Regions from separate parts of the Homo sapiens genome. Here regions 1 and 2 are each reported to be linked to region 3. Evidence: microRNA targets listed by miRTarBase, many of them from high-throughput screens and not tested one by one. Region 3 holds a microRNA gene; each other region holds the end of a gene's coding sequence.

Evidence for each region. Region 3 holds the annotated microRNA hsa-miR-590-3p (UAAUUUUAUGUAUAAGCUAGU, at 2,341-2,361, shown strand). A microRNA usually pairs through its seed, bases 2 to 8, with sites in the 3' UTR of a target mRNA and lowers its output. Matches are read on the target gene's strand: a 7mer-m8 pairs with bases 2 to 8, a 7mer-A1 pairs with bases 2 to 7 and ends in A, and an 8mer does both.
Region 1: miRTarBase lists RAB9B as a target of hsa-miR-590-3p. Seed matches in the 3' UTR shown: 7mer-A1 at 6,584-6,590, 7mer-A1 at 6,577-6,583 and 7mer-A1 at 4,567-4,573.
Region 2: the mRNA of MSH3 is a reported target of hsa-miR-590-3p. Seed matches in the 3' UTR shown: 8mer at 1,446-1,453 and 7mer-A1 at 1,959-1,965.

Annotation. Positions count from the first base shown.
Region 1 is chrX:103,818,428-103,825,628 of GRCh38, forward strand. It overlaps RAB9B (RAB9B, member RAS oncogene family), which reads right to left. Exons shown (of 3, transcript NM_016370.4): 3 at 3,900-7,201. The coding sequence ends at 6,752. Among named protein-coding and RNA genes, the nearest start is that of RAB9B, 10 kb to the right of the region's middle.
Region 2 is chr5:80,874,518-80,881,684 of GRCh38, forward strand. It overlaps MSH3 (mutS homolog 3), which reads left to right. Exons shown (of 24, transcript NM_002439.5): 24 at 1,234-2,298. The coding sequence ends at 1,345. Among named protein-coding and RNA genes, the nearest start is that of RASGRF2, 82 kb to the right of the region's middle.
Region 3 is chr7:74,188,913-74,196,113 of GRCh38, forward strand. MIR590 (microRNA 590) reads left to right here and starts at 2,286; the gene lies at 2,286-2,382. EIF4H (eukaryotic translation initiation factor 4H) reads left to right here. Exons shown (of 7, transcript NM_022170.2): 3 at 761-825; 4 at 910-1,006; 5 at 1,335-1,394; 6 at 5,829-5,966; 7 at 6,257-7,201. The coding sequence ends at 6,396.

The DNA of each region.
Region 1 (7,201 bases), not on the chromosome of region 3:
CATAATCTTTGACCTAGAAATTTTACTAGTAGGAAATAAACAGAGGTGAGAGTTAAGATTGATATTAAGGAACTTCACTGATGCTTTATTTTATGAAAAGAAGGCAGCTGTAAAACAACCTAAATGTCTAGCAATAAGTGTTTTATTAAAAGTTTAGCAATATGGGTAATTGTGGTAAACCCTTCAATACAATATTATGCAAACAGCAAATATAATCTTAGAAGAATATATGTCTTAGAGAAAAGTTAAGTACTATAGATATATATTAAGTAAAAAAGATTACAGTGTGTGCAGTATCAAATCAATTTTAAAAATACATAAATATATTAAAATCTACACTAAAATGTTAAAATCTGCTTATCTCAGGTTAATAGGATTACATTACAGATGACTTTAATTTTTTAAATCTTGCTTTTCTATTTCTTTCATTACTTCATTTTTCTACGGTGGATGTGTATGGCTTTTGTAATCAGAAAAAAAGAACATTTTAAAGCATTTATCGGTCACTCTAAGTTTTCTAGCAGGGAACAAATGGAAAAAGAGAGAACTCAGAGGCTACTGGCACTTGTTCATCTATTAACAGACTCTATGTTGAGCAATATATTACAGGACACACCCTTGGATATGTCGTTTCTAAGGCAGCCAGGAACAACGTAAGAGAAAAGAGATGATATGAGCCTGTTTCTTGCTTCCTCATGAATGCACCACAGGAAAGTGTGATTTGTATTTTTACTCTAATCAATATAGCTAATGTTGAATTAAGAGCTATTTCTTTCATTAAGGCAGCATTTCCCAATTCTTTTTATCAATCAGTTAACTAGATGTGGCACAGCTTGGCAGGTCTGATTAAAATTCAGGAGTGTTATAGTGAGACCATTATACATTTACCCATAGTTCATACAGCACGAAAGGAACTGACAGATTACTTAAAAATACACATGCTTGCACACACAAAACCCACTGTTTAAAAAGACATTTATATATAACTGAATCATCATTCTCTGTGTTTCCTTGGAGAAGGCAAAGAGATTTATGAAGACACAAAGATCACTGCAGCAGTTTCTATATGACTACAGGTGACGACGCCACATCTTGAGCTGTGAAGATGCTTATTTTCACTGGGAAAATATTAAGTAACTTCTTGCCCCCTTAAAAAAAAACCCTTTCACACATTATTACCACTACCATCACTAGCAGAATAAGAGATCCTTGCTCACCAGTTTTGGCAAGCATATCAGTAAGAAGGCATTTAATAATTTTTCCTTTATTCCATAAACATGCCTAGCTTTTGTCATTATCCCTTCCTTCTCTTAAAGAGAAAGTAGTAAAGAATGAGAGCTCTTTTGGTGATGGAAACTTGAGGAAATTAAAATGACCAGTTTGGAAAAAGAAAACATTAGTGAATATCCCAAATCATGCACATTAACGTTTTATCAAAAGGTGTATGCTATGCTCTGAATCTTTTTGTCCCCCTCCAAAATTCATAGGTTGAAATCCTAACCCCCCAAGGTTATGGCATTATAAGGAGATGGGGCCTTTGGAAGGTGATTAGGTCACAAGGGTGAAGCCCTCATAAATGGGATTAGTGTCCTTATAAAAGAGGCCCAGGAGAAACCCCTTCCCCCTTCCACAGAGCTGGAAGGTGCCATCTGTGAACCAGAAATCAAGACCTCACCAGACCCTGAATGTGCGGATGCCTTGATTTTGGACTTCCTAGCCTCCAGAGCTGAGAAATGAAATTCTGTAGTTTATAGCCTACCAAGCTTATGGTATTTTGTTAGGGCAGCCCAAATGGGCTAAGACAGTATATTACAGTTTATCTGCCCTAAAATCAAGTGTAAGAAAAACACTGCACTGTAGTAAATTTTACATTTCCACAGCAAAGAGAGAAAAAAAGTGAAATGATTATCTAGATCACTGAGGAAAAAAAATTGCTGCAAGATCTACTTTGGGTAATTCAAATGAAAGTAGAGATGTCCATCCCACCTCCCAGCTTGAAATTACTCAAATTGATACCTCGATTTTCCAGTGTGTTTTAAAACTACAGTTACAAGATGGAAGACAAATTATGTATTCCACACCTTCCTGTTTCTGGAAGGACTATCGCCAAACCATTTCCAAAAAATGAGACCGTACTGTTTCTTAAGACATCATGAGGAGATTTCCCACTGGGTTATGAATGAGGCAGAAAAACATTAAAGACAGGAAGTTGGCATTCTGTTTTTAAAATATCAGTTATGGGCCCCGGTGCATTGGCTCACACCTGTAATCCCAGAACTTTGGGAGGCCAGGTGGGTGGATCACTTGAGGCCAGGAGTTCAAGACCAGCCTGGCCAACATGGTGAAGCCCTGTCTCTACAACAAATACAAAAATTAGCCAGGTGTGGTGGCGGGCGCCTGTAATCCCAGCTATTAGGGAGGCTGAGGCATGAGAATCGCTTGAGTCCGGGAGGCCGAGGTTGCAGTTAGCCAAGATCAGGCCACTGCACTCCAGCCTGGGCAACAGAGCAAGACCCTGTCTCAAACACACACACACACACACACACACACACACATACACACACACACACACACACACACACACACAAAGTTAGCTGGGCATGCTGGTGCATGCCTGTAATCCCAGCTACTCAGGAGGCTGAGGTGGAAGGACTGCTTAAGTTCAGGAGGTGGAGGTTGCAGTGAGCCAAGATCAGGCCACTACACTCTAGCCTGGGCAAAAGAGCGAGACCCTGTCTCAAAAAAAAAAATAATCAGTTACAAATGAGCAAATCCTTATTAAGTGGCTTATAAATCTATGACTTTCTATATTCTAAAAGTTGCATCATTATAGACTAGTCAAAATGATTTGGGGTGCTGCATTTGAAGCATGGTCTGATAATGTGTTAAATTATAATCCTCAGAGATGGAAATGGTACATGTGGCAAAAAAAAAAAAAAAAAATCTGTTTCCCAACAAATTCCCCACCCCCAATTTCAACTGCCCAAAGTTGCAACAGGCAAAAGTAGACAGAGAGAAGAGAGTGAAATCTGTGGCAGATGGAATCAATGTAATGAAACTATATATGCTGTGGAAAGATTTGTGTCCATAATTTTAAAACCGCCATTATGTATATTCAAGCCATTGGGTGCTAATGTATCTTTAAAATCCAATATGTGAGAGGCAAGAGAACAGAATATTTAACAAAATTATTCTTTGCTTTTCTTATTTGTTTCACCTATATTTTCATGTTTTCCTAAGGTCTGGACAATTCACCAGTCAGGAAAATAAAGGGAATATGTCTACTCTGTTTATATTTTTTGATGGTTTAACATTTATCTTATTTTTTATGCAACGTTGTTTATTATAATATTTTTTCTTTTATTTGTATAAATTTAGGGGGCACAAGTGCAGTTTTGTTATATGGGTATATTGCAGATTGAAATCTGGGCTTTTAGTGTACCCATCACCAGAATAGTGTACATTGTATCCATTAAGTAATGGTTTTAAATTATAATAAAGAAATAAAGTGGAAAGTTAAGATTCAATTTCCAGTCCCAATACACGTCATGCATTAGAAAGTGGTTAAACCCATGAGTTTGAGGCTGCTATGAGCCATGATTGCGCCACTGCACTCCAGCCTGAGCAATGGAGGGACCCTGTCTCTAATAACTAAATAAATAGAAAGAAAGTGGTATAAAATAAAAAGGACCTCCCTGCCCCAATCTTTAGAGTTTGCTTCACAATCAGTATAGAAATATCTGATCACTAGATAGTGGCTGCTTGGAGTACCACATGAAACATGATCCAGAGGCCACATCCAGTGCAGCCTGAAAGAGTGACTTGATTAATAAGTACTGTCCATCACACCCACCAATTTCTCAAAAAGAGAAAGGGAGGGAATAAACACAAACATTGTGTGCTGGTTATTCAAAATGCACTTTTTATTCACTTTAACACAGATGATTTTTTACAGTTGAAAGAAAATATTTGATACACAATTTTGAGTTTTTTTTAGCAGCACCTGCAACAAGAGGATTGTGGAATACCTCAGAATAAAGTAGAGATGGCTGGGGCAGGCACAAATTAACCTGATATTCATCAATCCACTGAAGACATATGGAATCTGAGGCCCCTGAAAGTTAGCCAATACATGACAATAAACTAAATAAATATTCTGTATGATGTTTTAACAGACCATTGAAAAACAGTATAGTCCTAATTAGAAATATATTATTCCAAAAATCTAGTGTTCTTTAAAAAAACACCTATTGAAAATATTACACTGCACATTCTAGGGTACACAGTCAATTTCTAAACCTATATGCACAGTTCTTGGTACTCACAGATTTCAGCCTTTGGTGTTTTTTAATCTTACCCAAACTGTATGTCAGCACCCCACTGAGTGTTGCTTACCCAAATGCCACTGTTTATGTCACTTAATGTTGAGTGCTTTCATTAAGATATTGAGTGGTAATTTGGTAGAAAACAATGGTATGGCTAAGAGGAAAGGGGCTCCAGCTGATGGGCCAATAAAATTAACACTTGTCTTAGATGGACAGGATGCCTATGAATCCGATACCCATGTAATTTTTTTTTTTTTACTCAAATGACCACATGCCACTCTAATAGAGACAAATACTTTTGTGAGTTGATAGAGGTCTTTATGATGAAGGCCTGAGATCTACAAATAGAAACTAGTATAAGCAGAGTGCAAGTAGAAAGAGAAGGCCCCAGGTCTCATGCACTTAAAAATAATTAGCATTTAACAGTTCTGACGTACAGATTTTCACCCTAACATGATTGTAGCAAAATGATCACAGAACTTGGAAACCAGTGTGGCTGGCTATAGGCATAGGCAGGATAGGGACCAGTACTTAAGAGCTGTGGGGTCCCAGTTCTGGCTTTGACTTCTGGCGTCAAAGTTAATTGAACAATGGTGTCAGGATTATATCTTAATTGGAAATATTGAGTATGACTGAGTTGAAATACTGTCCTCTTCTTTTCTATTTGGCCAATATGTCCCAGAGCTCTTAAAGCACAAAGGTCCTACATGTAAGTAAGGCTGATTCCATACGTGGCTACAATGGAGAGTTCTAGGCTGTATTCCTATGAAAGCTCCCACCCCCTTCCTGGCCTAGGTCTCTTTTTGGGGTAATTTCTGTCTGTCACTATTTTTATCATAGATGTTTTAAAGTACAGATTAAAATCTATGCAGGGTAAACAGATCAACCAACAAGAACCACACTGCATATTCATAATATAGTATATAACTGACAGTCATGGTAATCAAAAATTGTCAAACCATTTTTATATTTTAACATGGGAGCTTTAAGATGTTTTTTATCAGTCACATAAAGATTACTCAGAGCTCAAGAATTTTTCCTGCCACAGTGCAAAAGCAAAAGGAAGAGCTATGTAGTTGCTGTTAAAGATTGATCACAGAATGGTTTGAGAATTTTTAAAGTCCCTCTCCATAGTCTTAGCTGTTATCATCAGATAAATCTAACCACAGCATGGCACTGATGTAGTTTATATATTCATAGAACTTAGAGCCAGAAAGGACTTTATATTGAACATGTAGCCAGCACAGAAAATCTTTTTATGGTATTCTAACAGATGGTCATCCAGTGAATATTTTCAGAGGCAGGGAGCTCACTATTAAGGCAGTCCATTCCACTGTTGGACAACTCTGTTTATGGGAAATTCATTCTAACACTGGGTTAAGATCTGCTCTTCTGTCACTTTCAATGTCCTAATTAGGCTAGTTGAACATACAGTGCAACATATAAGAAACCAGTTCCTTCTTCTGCAATAAATATTTGAGTTAAGGAGCCTTGTGAGAAAAGTTCATTATCCCCCAATCTTTTATGAAGCCTTCTCCATGAGCCCAGCATGTTGGATCAAAGGACCATCTAAATGATGAGCAGAGAGCACTGCATCCAAATTCATATACTAAGCAGCATTGCTAAATTGGTAAGAGGTTGTCAGAGAAGCAACATCTCTATGCAGCAAAAGTAGACTTAGGAATTAAAAGCAGACCAACCATTTATTTGCAAAGGTGGTTGGCATATTTAAGCATAATCCATTCACTAGTATCCTATGACTTCAAACACAAGAAGTATAATCAATTGCCAGTGTCATTAGAGTATCTCTTATTGAGATGGGATTTTTTGAAAAGCTCAGATGGGAGCGAACCATACATAAGGATTTAAACAAGTCAGTGTATATCATTATACTTTTGCACTCCTAATCATTACAACTTCTTTAATTCAAGCCTAGGAATCCTTATTTGCATTATTATTTTTATTGTAATACAGCTCAAAGTCTGATTTTTTTCCCCTTTGGCAGAAATGTCAGAAACTGCTTGGCAAGAGTCTGATAGTGACATTTGTTAGTTGATTAATGGAACACTTTAAGAAATAGTTGTAGCTCTTTAACTCCTTCATGCAGCTGGGTTCTAGGTTTAAACTGTGATTTAAAAAATATTTAACTGTCTCAGGACTAAAATTTTCTGATATGTCCTGAGACACACAAGAAGGGGAAATAGCAGAAATCACGCAAAATACACTTGGCTTGATAGAGCTTCATTTTTTTTAATTTTTAATTTTTTTAAATCAATCTACACTTCAATTTGAAAGGCTCTGTTTCACAATCAGAACCTTGTCTCTTACCCTCTTGTGTGCGTGTGTGTGCACTCTTAGAGGGGCACAGTTATTCTTACACTACTGACTGATCAATTTGGGGCACATTTTTAAAAGGCTCCCTATCTTTAACAGCACGAAGACCCTGCTTTGGAGCCACTGTTCAAGTCAATGGTGTGACCCAACATGCAATGCTCCAGCTGTTCCTCTACAGCCAGCACCTGCCTGACAGCTTCTTCAAAGGCCACTGTCACATTAGTATCATCTTTGGCACTAGTTTCTAAATAAGGGTAATCCCCATTCTCCATGCACCAGGTTTGTGCCTCCTCAGTAGTCACTTGCCTATCCTCTTTGTCTACCTTGTTACCCAGAACTACAAAGGGGAAATGCTCAGGGTCCTTCACATCCGCATAGTAAATAAATTCTTTCTGCCAGTTACCAAGATTCTCGAAGCTCTGCCGATCATCCACGCTGAAGGTCAAGAGGCAGCAGTCTGCTCCCCTGTAGAAGGGTGTCCTAAGGCTCTTGAAACGTTCCTGCCCTGCAGTGTCCCAGATCTGGAGGGTTACAAAGCGTCC
Region 2 (7,167 bases), not on the chromosome of region 3:
TTTAAAAATAAACTTAGCCCTCTTCCTCTGCAAAGTCCAGAGACAAATTAAACTCTTTAGTTGCCATATTATTATTGTTCTTTTTCTCTGAAAAAAACCTAGAATAAAACTTTACTACAAAGGATATATATACAAGATAGTAATAAAATATGTCAATTTCTAAATTTGCTGTAGAAATATATGCAAGATAGCAATAAAATATGGCAATTTCTATATTTTCATATATTCTTGTTTCTGCTATATAGCCTATAAAGCAAGAGCAAAAAAACTCTCAGATTACTCATAAATATTTTAACTCTTCCAACTAGTAAGTGACATTTTGAACTCTATGAAGTTATCTTGACAAGATGAGAGAATTATTAGAAGACATTGCATTGGGATGGAATCTGATCATTTATCAAGATACTGTATTTGTTATTTTACCTTTTTTCTAAAAGTGCTTATCACATCAATTCCTTTGGCCAGATCAAAGAAATCAAACTGCATCTTGGGCCTTACTGTGGATTTGTTATAATAGTTGCTATTTGTTGGATGGTTACTGTGTGTAGAAACCATTCTGAGCAGTCATTTGCAGCAGCCTACACACTGTGCCAGCTACTCTTCTCATCACTTTACATACATTATCTCATTTCATCCTTATGGCAGCCTTATCCTCATGGTATAGTTGGGGAAAGTGAGACCAGCAAGGACAGGACACTGACCCAGAGTCACACAGCTACTTGATGGTGGAGCAGTAATTGGAACTCAGGTACTCTAGCTCCATACCCTAAATAGTCAATTGGGTTGCTATTCTGCAGAAAAAAAAAAAAAGTAAGTCTGTGTTATGCTGGCGTTTTACTCTTTAATTAGCTTCATTGTTTTCGGTTGGTGTTACTTTTCATCCTGGGAACACTTCATAGGAGTTTCTTTTCTCCAGGTACAAATAAGCACACACCACCAGCCTCTAGCAGAGTTTGAAGGAGGAGGAGGTCAGGTTCTCCCCTCTGGGGCTGGCAGGGGTAAGGATTTTAGGAGAAGGCACAAAGGTAATAGTGGCAATTGGTAACCTGGGTCCCTTGATTATAGTAGCAGCTCTGAAAGCTCCTTTCACTGGAAGGGTGACACTGACACAGCTTCCTAACTATAGAGCCTGCCCGGTATTCAAGTGTTATAGACTTTTCATAGCTTCTGATGAGACGTATTGTCTCCCAGCAATTTCATTTATTAAATAAGTAGTATTTGATTTTTCCCCAGAAAGAGACTCAAGTATTTTGCAAAGTTATGGACGATGCATAATGCACAAGACCTGCAGAAGTGGACAGAGGAGTTCAACATGGAAGAAACACAGACTTCTCTTCTTCATTAAAATGAAGACTACATTTGTGAACAAAAAATGGAGAATTAAAAATACCAACTGTACAAAATAACTCTCCAGTAACAGCCTATCTTTGTGTGACATGTGAGCATAAAATTATGACCATGGTATATTCCTATTGGAAACAGAGAGGTTTTTCTGAAGACAGTCTTTTTCAAGTTTCTGTCTTCCTAACTTTTCTACGTATAAACACTCTTGAATAGACTTCCACTTTGTAATTAGAAAATTTTATGGACAGTAAGTCCAGTAAAGCCTTAAGTGGCAGAATATAATTCCCAAGCTTTTGGAGGGTGATATAAAAATTTACTTGATATTTTTATTTGTTTCAGTTCAGATAATTGGCAACTGGGTGAATCTGGCAGGAATCTATCCATTGAACTAAAATAATTTTATTATGCAACCAGTTTATCCACCAAGAACATAAGAATTTTTTATAAGTAGAAAGAATTGGCCAGGCATGGTGGCTCATGCCTGTAATCCCAGCACTTTGGGAGGCCAAGGTAGGCAGATCACCTGAGGTCAGGAGTTCAAGACCAGCCTGGCCAACATGGCAAAACCCCATCTTTACTAAAAATATAAAGTACATCTCTACTAAAAATACGAAAAAATTAGCTGGGCATGGTGGCGCACACCTGTAGTCCCAGCTACTCCGGAGGCTGAGGCAGGAGAATCTCTTGAACCTGGGAGGCGGAGGTTGCAATGAGCCGAGATCACGTCACTGCACTCCAGCTTGGGCAACAGAGCAAGACTCCATCTCAAAAAAAAAAAAAGAAAAAAGAAAAGAAATAGAATTATCAAGCTTTTAAAAACTAGAGCACAGAAGGAATAAGGTCATGAAATTTAAAAGGTTAAATATTGTCATAGGATTAAGCAGTTTAAAGATTGTTGGATGAAATTATTTGTCATTCATTCAAGTAATAAATATTTAATGAATACTTGCTATAGATGATGGTATGTCCCATTGAATTTTGGTGTTTCCAAGTGTTTGGAAATTGTCATTTTTTAAGGTGTAATTATGAAATTAAGGTTACTGCTTTGACCAGCGCAATACACAGAAGTGAACTTGTTCATTTGGGACCTTTCTGTTCATTAACATATCAGGTGTATCATCTTCCCAGTAATGAGCCTTATAGCTTAGTTGATTCATAACAGTGCTCCCTTCCTGCAAATTTAGGGTAACACGTGCTCAACTGTGTCCCTGGGTTTTTTACAGCACTTACAATCTGGCTTCCCAGATCCATGTGTTCTTTTTGTTTCTAAATATATGATCTTGCACAAAAGCTCTCCATCCTATTTTCCTCTCTTTTATTATTTCTGCTCAGTTAAATGTCTTCCCCACATTTGATGGACATATTTTTAATTCCTTCTTCTGGATTATTATCTTCAGTGATCCCAGCAATGACCCCAGCCAGACACAGGAGTCAATACAGTGTCCCCAAGTTGTGGCTTCACTTTTGAGTCAGTCACTCTTTAGCTATCTGACTCTCAACCTTATTGGAGTTAGAGTGTGATGTAATTTGATTGATTCTACCACCCCTCCAGAAATATGAACGTATAGTCAGATTCTCAAAACTGTCAAAATAGTTAGTTGGAATGTACGCTTTAAATTTTAAAAAGAACAAAATTGTTCCAATACTCTATATAACTGTAAATGTCTTATATTTTTTCTAACAAGATTTCAAAGATAGTGCTGTAACCTCACCTCACAGGGAGAAAAGGAGATAACTCCAGGAATTTCATGCCCATGCCAGAGGGAGCTGCAGGGACCAGCAATCACTGGTAATGTCCAGGTGGACATCTGGAGCCACCTCTCCCTCTTGCTTGGTCCAGGCCAGCATCAACACTGAAGCAGGTAGGGGTTCCAGGAGCATTGTGTCCTGGCAGTGGCAGCACACAGTGTCTGGCAGCTGACAACGTGGAACTTTACAGGGTAGATTGTCCAGCATGATCAGGAAGCCAGCCAGGCGGCCAGCTTGAGGGAAGGCAGGCCTCCTCCAAGCTGGGGAAGAGATCAGCACAGCTGAACTGCATTTCCAAGTGAGACTCATCCCCAGCTGGGTTACTGAGATATTGGAGGAAACGTTGAGGCCAAATCCCAGTCATAAAGACTGCACAAATGCCATGGGGAGGTAGGCAGAAAGTTGCAAACAAGTGGGTTTGTATTTCAGATAACCATCTTGGGGCTGCAATTCTAAAGTTAGATATAATCACACAGGTGAGAATAGGGCTGCTGGTGCATGGCAAGCGCCCTCCACATTCCCTCTGGTACTGCATAGGCATGAGCCTGCAGGCTAAATGTCTTCCATACTTCAGACAGAGGCTAGGGGAGACAGGGCTGACTGGTGGCCAAATGTCAAGGAAAGTAACTTTTTAATACGATATATTCCTTTAAGTGACTTGTCCGTTTTTAGCCATCAAATTACAAATTAAGAGCTAGTGATTCTGCAGTAACACACACCAATTCCTCGAAAACCTTCTAAAGTCACACCAGTTTAATAATTCCAACCTTAGGGAAACAAAGCCAAACATATTTTAACAAGTTTGAACTTTGACCTTTCTATTGCTTCATCTCTCCTCAGTGCTGTTTATTCTATATAGTTTTTAAAATAGTGTTATTATATAACTAGTATAAAATATTTGAAAATCCATGGGACTATATAATTTAAAAAGAGAAAAAAGGAAAAATGAATTTTTAAAATTAAATTTTGTAAGGTAAAAATAAATTTAAAGGCTGGGCGTGGTTGCTCACACCTGTAATCCTAGCACTTTGGGAGGCCGAGGTGGGCAGATTGCCTGAGCTCAGGAGTTCAAGACCAGCCTGGGCAACTCGGTGAAACCCCGTCTCTACTAAAATACAAAAAATTAGCCAGGTGTGGTGGCATGCGCCTGTAGTCCCAGCTACTCGGGAGGCTGAGACAGAAGAATTGCTTGAACCCAGGAGGTGGAGGTTGCAGTGAGCCAAGATCACACCACTGCACTCCACCCTGGGCAAGAGAGCAAGACTCTGTCTCAAAAAAACATTTAAAGGAAAAAAAATATAAAAACCTCAGCATTTGAGTTACTTAATTTATCTCAATGTTTCTCAGTGCTGAATATGAAAATCAAATGATTCCCATTTGAATCATAGACTTTTGGACTGAGATCCAAGCTTAGTATTCTTTTATCAGCTTTATTGACATAGTTTACATACTGCACAATTTATTTAGAGTGAATAATTCAGTGGGTTTTTGTGTATTCACAAGCTTGTACAACTGTCACTACAATCAATTTTGGAACATTCTTAATCACCCTAAAAAGAAATGCTGTACCTATTAACTGCCAGTCTGCATTCCTCCCCAAGATCGTCAGCCCTAGACAACCCCTAATCTTCATTCTGTCTCTATAGATTTGCCTATTTTGGACATTTCATATGAATGGAACCATAGAATATGTGGTCTTTTGTGTCTGGTTTCTTTCACTTAGATGCAAGATTCATCTGTGTGTCAGAACTTCATTCTCTTTAACTGGTAAAAAGTATTCCATTTTATGTATACCTTACATTTTAATTTATCCATTCATTAGTTGATGCACATTTGGATTGTTTCTATTTCTAGCTATTATGAGTAATTCTACCATGAATATTTGTGTATAGGTTTTTATGTGACGAGGCATAATATTTTTTAAAAAGCTCCCCTAGTAATTCTGATGTGCAGTCAGGTTTGTGAACCATTAGTCTCAAAGATGACAGATGACTAAACAGTATTTTTAATTGAGTTGACAATCATTTGGTCTGTTTGTCCACTGCTTTATCTGTCACTTAGGGCAGAGTGTAGCATACTGTAGACCCTAATTAATATTTGTTAAAGTGGAAAAGAAAAACCAAACTCCTTCAGCTTAGAAACCCAATGAAAAGATGTTTCTTTTCATAATGAAGGCACCATTTCACTAGGGATTCAAGATCCATACAGAAGTGTGCTATATCTTTAGAAAAAAAAACTTTTTCAGACAATTTTTCCAAGTTTGTGCCTGTCGTCATCATGGTGATGGTGTTGGGGCTGGTGAAACACTGCCCACTGCATCAATTCCAGAGTAAAAACTAGATTGAATCCAAAATTTTCTATAAATTAGTGTTGACCTTTACTGAGTTCTGAGATCAATATTAATTACTGCTGTGCTTTGTAATTATAAAAGGGCTATTTGATGTTTCACACCAAGGATATGGGTGGAGAGAGAAAAGAACTTGTATTAACACCATCTGTGGTTTCTAACTTTGTAATTAAGGCCAATTCCTCTGTGGAACATTTTAGTTATTATATATCATGATTATTCGGTCTATTAATATCCAGGGAAGTACCACAGTTTGAGAGCCATTCATTCTGGTTTACTTGGGGAGTCCTATTCTATACCTGTTTTGCTGGCATAATTATTAAAAGCCTCTTTAACTCAAAAGTGTCCTGTTTTGGATAATAACTCATACAGTTACCCCAATTATAGGTGCTATTCCATGAGCACAGTTACTGACTTGCTACATTTTAAATGTCATCTAAAAAATTTTTCATTTTTTTCTTACCCATTGGATGAACCAGTTTTTCCCCTAAAGACCTGCCAGTTGTTTTTGCCTGTTCTTGATAAGTGCTTTGTATTGTGGCATTTAGAAGCTACAGCTCTGCTAATTGGTGTGTTAGAGCTTTACTACTTAATCTGTTGTTGAGGCTAAATCCCCAAAGATAACATGTCATCTGCCTCTTCTCCACGAAATCATGGTGAGGAATGTGCACCTACATGACTTTGTGAGACACGCAGCAAGACTGTCTTCTTGCAGAAATAATTATTCCTCAGGAGGAGGAATTGCCTCTGGTTCTTTTGTCCTTTGCTCAGATCCTCTCTTCATTGCCTTTGGCTATCTTTTTTTTATTTTTTTGACAAAACAGTATTTTATTTTCACATCAGAAAAGAAATATTGTCTGCCATTTTCACCTCTTTTTCAACCTCAAGCCCCTTTTTCTTAATCCTACTTCCAGAAAGCTCCCATTTGGAGGTAGGAATGTCTTGCCCTCTTATCAGAAGCACCAAAGGAGTTTCTTAAATGTGGATTTCTAGGCCCCGCCTTAAAGCTACTGAACCTGAATCTCTGAAGTTGGGACACAGAAATACCAGTGTTAGTTTCTGTCATCCCTTCATCACGTTCTCTCACCTTTTCCTTCCTCATATGGCCAATGATCTGGCCTCCAAAGAAATTTGTTAAAAATCATATTCCTTGGTTCATGACTGCTCTTTACGATTCTGTCTGATTTACTGCATCTGGTGTGGGGTCTAGGGAACTTCATTATTATTTTTAAAATAGACTATTTCTTAGAGCACTTTTAGATTCATCACAAAATTGAATGGAAAGCTCAGAGAGGTCCCACATACCCTCTGCTCAAACACACCACCTCCCTCACTATTGACATCCTGCACCGTGGTGGCATGTTTGTTACGGTTGATGAACCTACATTGTCACAACACTATCACCCAGAGTTCGTAATTTACATTGGGGCTCACTCTTGATGTTGTACCTTCTATGGGTTTGGACAGATTTCTAATGACATGTAATCACCATTATAGTATCACACAGAATAGTTTTACTGCCCTAAAAGTCCTCTGTGCTCTGCCTATGCATCCCACTCACCCCAAACCACTGGCAACCACTGATCCTTTCACTGTCTCCATAGTTTTGCCTTTTCCAGAATCATACAGTAGGTAGTCTTTTCAGACTAGCTTATTATTCACTTAATAACATGTACTCAAGCTTACTCCACGTCTGTTCATAGCTTGACAGCTCATTTCTTCTTAGC
Region 3 (7,201 bases):
TTGGTAAACAGGGAAAGTTTGGACTCAGGCCTTTAGAGCACTTGCGGTCTAGTGGGCTTCAAAGATGAAGTGTGATTATTAAGTTATTATACACAGGGCAAGGACGCTGGGGGAGAGGGGATGCAGGGTGTAGTGCCAGCATCTGGGGAGTAATGAACTAGATTTAGACTCCAGACAGCAAGGAAGGGGCAATGTCAGACCCCTGGCATCAGGGACACAGGTTGTCAGTAACAGGTACTTGGACCCAGGCTGCCTGTCTTTTAATTAACATTCAGAGAAGAATGCCCTGATTGCCAAGGATATATTTTCAGCTTTGTGAAGCAAATTTTATGTCAGTTACCTGAGTAGTAAGTTAAATCGGCACTTTAAGCCTCTTTCTTCAGAGCATTTTAGGTACCAAGTTTGAAATCTACGAAATCTAATCCTCACTTAGATTAAATAGTCATTCAGAAGTCAGAAGAGCTCTGCAGATGGCCTGAGAAAGGTTTGAATATTATGGTTAAAACATTCAAGAAGAAAGCTTTCTAGAAACGCAGCTGCTATTTCAGTGCATGTTCAGTTAGCATTTTCTGACTGATAAAATAGAATTGAGAGGGAGGAATGCCAGTCAGGGTTCTATCTATTGAAAGGCTCTCCTAGTCTGCCATCATCTAGACAACAGAATGGTAGTTGTGACGTGGAGAAGTAGTATGAATAGGATCTTCCCACATCTTTAACCCAGAATTACTTGAGGAAATCGGGGTCTTCTTTTCTTTTCCAGGATTCTGCTATGTAGAATTCGATGAAGTGGATTCCCTTAAGGAAGCCTTGACATACGATGGTGCAGTAAGTATCCTCGGGTTTTCTCTGTCATAGCAGTTGAGATTGTTTTCTTTGCCAATACTTACACTATTTTCCCTTTATCATTAGCTGTTGGGCGATCGGTCACTTCGTGTGGACATTGCAGAAGGCAGAAAACAAGATAAAGGTGGCTTTGGATTCAGAAAAGGTGGACCAGATGACAGAGGTGATTGGTTCTTCTAAAGCTGAACATCATAAAGATTTGCAGTATGCCTACCAATTCCAACTCGTGAACGTTCCTAGTAGAACTCGATTATCTCATAGGTGTGATAGGTTCTCGTGAGCTCTTAAAAGTTTGCGTAAAATCCTAGAAAGAATGGCTGATGCTTCTGCAAGCCTGGCGTTTTTTGTTTTCTGTTGGAAGCAAAAGCTCTTAAAATGATTTCATTGAACCTTCCATCACTTGAGTTGTATGTCTTCCAAATGAATTTTTCCATGTTTGCGCAGCAAGGTAATGACACGACCTCAACTTTATCTTTTTTGTGTATCCTCAGGAATGGGTAGCTCTCGAGAATCTAGAGGTGGATGGGATTCCCGGGATGACTTCAATTCTGGTATCAGTATTTAAAGTATCACCACTTAATTTTTCCTAGGAGCCTTGCTGCTGTTCTCTGTTTCTTACGAGTAGCCCGCCTGGCCGGACTACTTATTTAGTTCCTTTAACAAATACAACTCTCCTGCAGGGTGCCCAGGCATGCAAGTAAGCCTCTGTTAGAGCCTGTGGGGGCAGGACTTGAGCCCCATGCACCTTGTGTGGTCACCTTTGTTAGCCTGCAGCTCCTTGGATGTGTACGGGCCTGGGTCCTTGAGCTCGCTCAGCAGTCTTTCTCAGACTCTAGCCCAGGGAAACTCCTCTGTGGTTTTGTGTATGGCACCAAGAGAAGTACTGTTCCTTCTGGAAAACATAGGATAGAGGTTTGGGTTCTTACATGGTGAAAGGTAGTCCTGATGGCCCTTTTTTTTCTTGGAGGATTGTGGGGAGGTCCAGTCCCTTGATGGTGGACCTGATGCACTTCGCCGTTCTCTTTCTTAGCCAACCCAGGCAGAGCAGCTGGTGGTATAGCACAAAGCATCAGTCCACACGCCAGGCCTCTGCCCTGCAGGGTGATTTTAAGCATTTTTATCATCTTTACTTTCTGTTTTTAAATTACAAAAGTATAATTTTTTATATATGCACATGATAAAAACTTCAGTTGTAACCCAGAAAGGTAGGAAGAGAAAAACAAATTTGTTTTCTTTCCCGCAAACTTGGGATGTGCTGTCAATGCTGTGCTGTATAGAACGTCAGCACCCTCCCCCCATCAAAACAAAACCGGTGTAAAGTAGTGGGTGAGTATGGGAGGGACTGGTGCACGCTGTCTTGTGAGTCTGAGATTTTTAAAAACTCAGCTTTGGCTGAACAGGTGACGACTACCTGTTGAATAATATAGTTCTTAAAAGTCCTGTAGCCAGTCAGAAATGAGCTTATTCATAAAAGTGCAGTATGGTGAAGTCAATCTGTAATTTTATGTATAAGCTAGTCTCTGATTGAAACATGCAGCAGCTGTCTTCTTAGAGCCAACCAGCAGCTCAGGGAACGGCCTTTCCCCTGCCAGTTTGGTATTCGCAGGTGTTATAGAAGTTGCCCACATACTAACGTCTTTCTACCCTTGGCTTAGCTTGGCCACTGGCGCTCAAGCAGAGACACAGTGAACACGGCCATGGCCTGGCCGCCACCAGTTCTGGTGGGAACTGCAGTGTTTTGGTGACATCTCAAACCCTATGTGGGCTCACTCGATGGAGTAATGGCTAATTTGATACTTTATACGTTATTTGCGAGAGTAGATCTTTTTTACTTTTTAATAGGATGGTGCTATTTTTTTTAATGATACCTGCTCATGTAAAAAACAAAATAGAGCAACAGAAAAGTACCAAGAAAGCAAAAACATTTCATCATCAGAAATAGCCAGTGTTAAACTAAGCTTTGTAAAGAAAACTCTGAAGATTCTCATGAATAGTTTGCTTCCTAGAAACCCACCAACAGATTTTTTGTTGTTGTTTTTTTTGAGACGGAGTCTTGCTCTGTTGCCCAGGCTGGAGTGCAGTGGTGCGATCTCGGCTCACTGCAAGCTCTGCCTCCTGGGTTCATGCCATTCTCCTGCCTCAGCCTCCCAAGTAGCTGGGACTACAGGCACCCACCACCACGCCCGGCTAATTTTTTGTATTTTTAGCAGAGACGGGGTTTCATCATGTTAGCCAGGATGGTCTCGATCTCCTGACCTCGTGATCCACCTGCCTCGGCCTCCCAAAGTGCTGGGATTACAGGCATGAGCCACCGCGCCCGGCCCCCACCAACAGATTTGATGAGAGATCCTTGTTCATCTGCTTCACCAGCGTGGTGTGAGCTATTTGTTTCACGCTAGACATTGGTGGTCGAAATCATTTAATCTCATAGTAAAGGGTGTAAATTTACTTTGTACTCACGTGGAAAGGTACACTTCACAGTTTAGTTTGGGGGAAACGTGAAGTTAAATGTTTTAATACTAACTAGGCTTGTTCACTGAACTGTGTAATGTGGGTAAAATACTTTGTAAAGGACCTTATACTCGACTGTATGCCTCCCAGTGTATTTCCCCTAAAGCAGTGCTCTTATTGGTCTAAATCTGTTCAGACTTGCTTTCATTACTTGGTTTGTTAAAATTTATTATTTAACTCAGTCTCTGAACTGGGTGTGAGATCCCTTGGTTTCCAAAACCCTTGCCACCTTTAAAGAATAGAAATCGGCCCCCACCACAGGTGATGCAGTCAGCGCTTATCATTGGAGGTGGTTCTGTGGAGTTGCTAGAACACTGAATGAGCCCGTGCGGTGCTGCTCCTGTGTGCTACAGATCACAACATTTTCGTCAGCTGATCATACCTAACATTGCTTTATGTGACTTTTTTTTTTTTCTTTTTTTTTTTTTTGAGACAGAGGCTCACTCTGTTGCCCAGGCTGGAGTGCAGTGGCATGATTTCGGTTCACTGCAATCTCCGCCTCCAGGGTTCAAGCGATTCTCCTGCCTCAGCCTCCCAAGTAGCTGGGATTACAGGCGCACACCACCACACCCAGCTAATTTTTATATTTTTAGTAGAGACGGGGTCTCTCCGTGTTGGTCAGGCTGGTCTCGAACTCCCAGCCTCAGGTGATCTGCCCACCTCTGCCTCCCAGAGTGCTGGGATTACAGGCGTGAGCCACCACACCCAGCCTATGTGACCTTGATTTTAAAGACGCCTCATTTAATGTTAGTGTTGATTCATTTAATAGTGTTAACATTGAACTCAGGGCCAGCTGTAGTAAGTAGTCTGTGGTGCCATCATTTCAGCCTGTTAGAAAGCTCATCCCACACCGGTTTTGTCTGTAAGACACCTGACAGCCAGCCTGCACTTAAGAACAGCAGACAGCACTTCACACTGCACCTGGGGCCACTTCAGACAGCGATGTCACCAGAAAAAGCCCAAAGGGCAAAACACCCGACACTCATCGTGAAAAGACTTGACAGCTAATAACTGAAACAGGCAGAGCATTATCGTTTTCTGCCTCAGCTGGGATCGTCGCATCTGTGCAGGTCCAGGACTGACTGGAGAAATGCTGCTGGTATCTAGCTTGGGATTACACATGAATTTTAGCGACTGGGTGGATTTGCAAATATGGGATCTGTGGATAATGAGGATGACTGTATAGTGCATACTGCGGGCTCTGGGGGTTCTTCTCAAAGACAAGCTCCCTGAAAGCTTGGAGCCTTGGCACCACTCTCGCAGAGAGTAGCAGTGGCACCCCCTGAGTGCGCAACCAACAGCAGCAAGCTCATTTGTTTAATTATGGTTTAACTTCTTTTCGCCAGTTTTTTTTTTTTTTCCTTGAGACAGAGTCTCACTTCATCACCCAGGCTGAAGTGTAATGGCACGATCTTGGCTCACTGCACCCTCTACCTTCCAGGTTCGAGCGATTATCCTGCCTCAGCCTCATGAGTAGCTGGAACCCCAGGCGTGCGCCACCATGCCCAGCTAATTTTTGTGTTTTTTGTAGAGAGTGAGTCTCACTGTGTTGCCCAGTCTGGTCCTGAACTCCTATACTCACCTCCCACCTCAGCCTCCCAAAGTGCTGGGATTACAGGCGTGAACCAGTCTTTTTACCAAATTTTAACATCAGTAGGTTATACAGTTAAAGTTTAGCTTTCACTGAAGTACAAGCCTGAAGGCCCCTTAAGACCATTGAGAAAATACTCTTTCCTCCTACACACCAGTGGGAATTCAGCATTTCTAAATGAGATGCAGTTTACTTCTGCCAAGAGCCCACTTAGCAGGCACACAAATGAATGGGGAAAGAACGCTTTGCCCCCACAGGAGGCGCCGGTGGGGGTGAGGCGCTGTGCTCTCTGCTCATGCCCCTCTGTGTAGGGCATGGCCAATTTCGGATAACTGCTTTGTTTACCACACAGGTGCTTTGCTTGTAGAATGGCCCACACCTAAAACGCAGCCAAAACAGGAAAATTGGGACTTTGTGTTTTTATTTTGTCTTCATATAGCGTTTTCTTGTGATTTTTGTGTTCTGAGTTGTAAATACTTCTAAATTTCAGGTTTATCTTTTAAAATAGCTGTATAGATTTCTATTAGAAAATAGAGTTCAACCTGCTTTGAGGCTTTCTTGTTTTGCTTAAGCCGTATTAAAATACAGTTTCGTGGTATTAATATTTTTCTACTTTTCATGCAAGCTGAGCATGTAAACAGCTCGTTTGTTTGCTCTCCTAAGATCTTGATTCCTTTTTCTTTGGGAAGTCTGTTAGCGCTGTCATTACTCCACACATTGGCATTTGGACCCACTTTTAACACACTTTATTTTGGAGAGACTTCAGATAGTGGACAAACTAAAGAATTTAAAATGAAACTCAAACAATTCCCAGAACATTATTCTATAAGCAGCTTGGAGACGATAGTTTGAAAAGTAATTCAGTGTCCTGTTTCTTCCTCAGGCTTCAGGGATGACTTCTTAGGGGGCAGGGGAGGTAGTCGCCCAGGCGACCGGCGAACAGGCCCCCCCATGGGCAGCCGCTTCAGAGATGGCCCTCCCCTCCGTGGATCCAACATGGATTTCAGAGAACCCACAGAAGGTACGGGCTCATGTGTCAGTGGAGGGCATCTTGTCCTGATGGGATGATCATGGCCGGTTCACACCCCGTGGGGACTTGGCGTTCTACGGCACACAGAGTTGTCGGCATAGATCCCCACGTTCTCTGGAATAGCAAGTTCACCTTGGTCATTAGAGCATCTGCTGTTGGGGTAGCAGGCCAGGTGAATTTTAGAAAGTGGGCTGGTTTGCTGACAGCAACATCAGCATGGTCGTTTTGCTGGATATGGAATGGGATCCACACTCTGACAAACTCTGCTTTTTCTCCCCCAGAGGAAAGAGCACAGAGACCACGACTCCAGCTTAAACCTCGAACAGTCGCGACGCCCCTCAATCAAGTAGCCAATCCCAACTCTGCTATCTTCGGGGGTGCCAGGCCTAGAGAGGAAGTCGTTCAAAAGGAGCAAGAATGAGCCTGCGGTTGGGAGGGAATGGGGCGTGGGGGGTTAGAGCAGGACCACAGCCTGGTGAGTCCCCGGGCAGCCGTCCTGCAGCCGCCACTCCTGCGCCTGCCATTGGCCTCCTCACAGCGGAAACACAGCTTGTGAGTGCATGTCAGCTGTTAACAAGTGGTTTTTAGTACATTCTGGGCTTTGCTGTATCTATCTAGTGCCTGTTTGTGCGTTTTTTTCTTTCTTCCGCTGCTTCCCCATTTTCCTTCTGTCCTTTTTCTCCTGCTCCTTGTTTTCCCAGCAGCACATGGGGTTCCTCGGAGGAGCAGAGGTGGCCGCCGTGGGGGGGCGTTTGGGCTGCGGTGCTGCGTCATTTTTCCTTTGCTTTCTCTTTACTTTAGACACTGGCCCAACTCCAGGCGTTTCCTTTCATTCCCTCAGTGCTTCTCTTCTGACCTGCATGTTGAGTTCTGTATTGCTGGGGCTTCCAACAAAAACCAGAGTCACTGACAGAGGGAACAGCAGAGACCTTGTTGGTATTCAGCTGTGATGGATATAGAGAATCAGAGGCACCTTGTTTTCACAACTAGGATAAAAATATCTGCAGGGTCCTTTCCATTCCTATTTAGAGGGAGTCCTGGCTCCATGACCCCCTCCCGAGTGGACTGTCCAAGCAGATAGGCTCACACGAGAAACAGTGAGGCTGAAAGGGGGGGCTATGGAAGAGCGGTAGGGAGTCCACGGAGAAGATGCAGTGAATGCTTGCATGCATTCACACGTGTGTGTGTCCCAGCTAGTTCACTCCTTTCGCCGTGCGTGGTGGAGG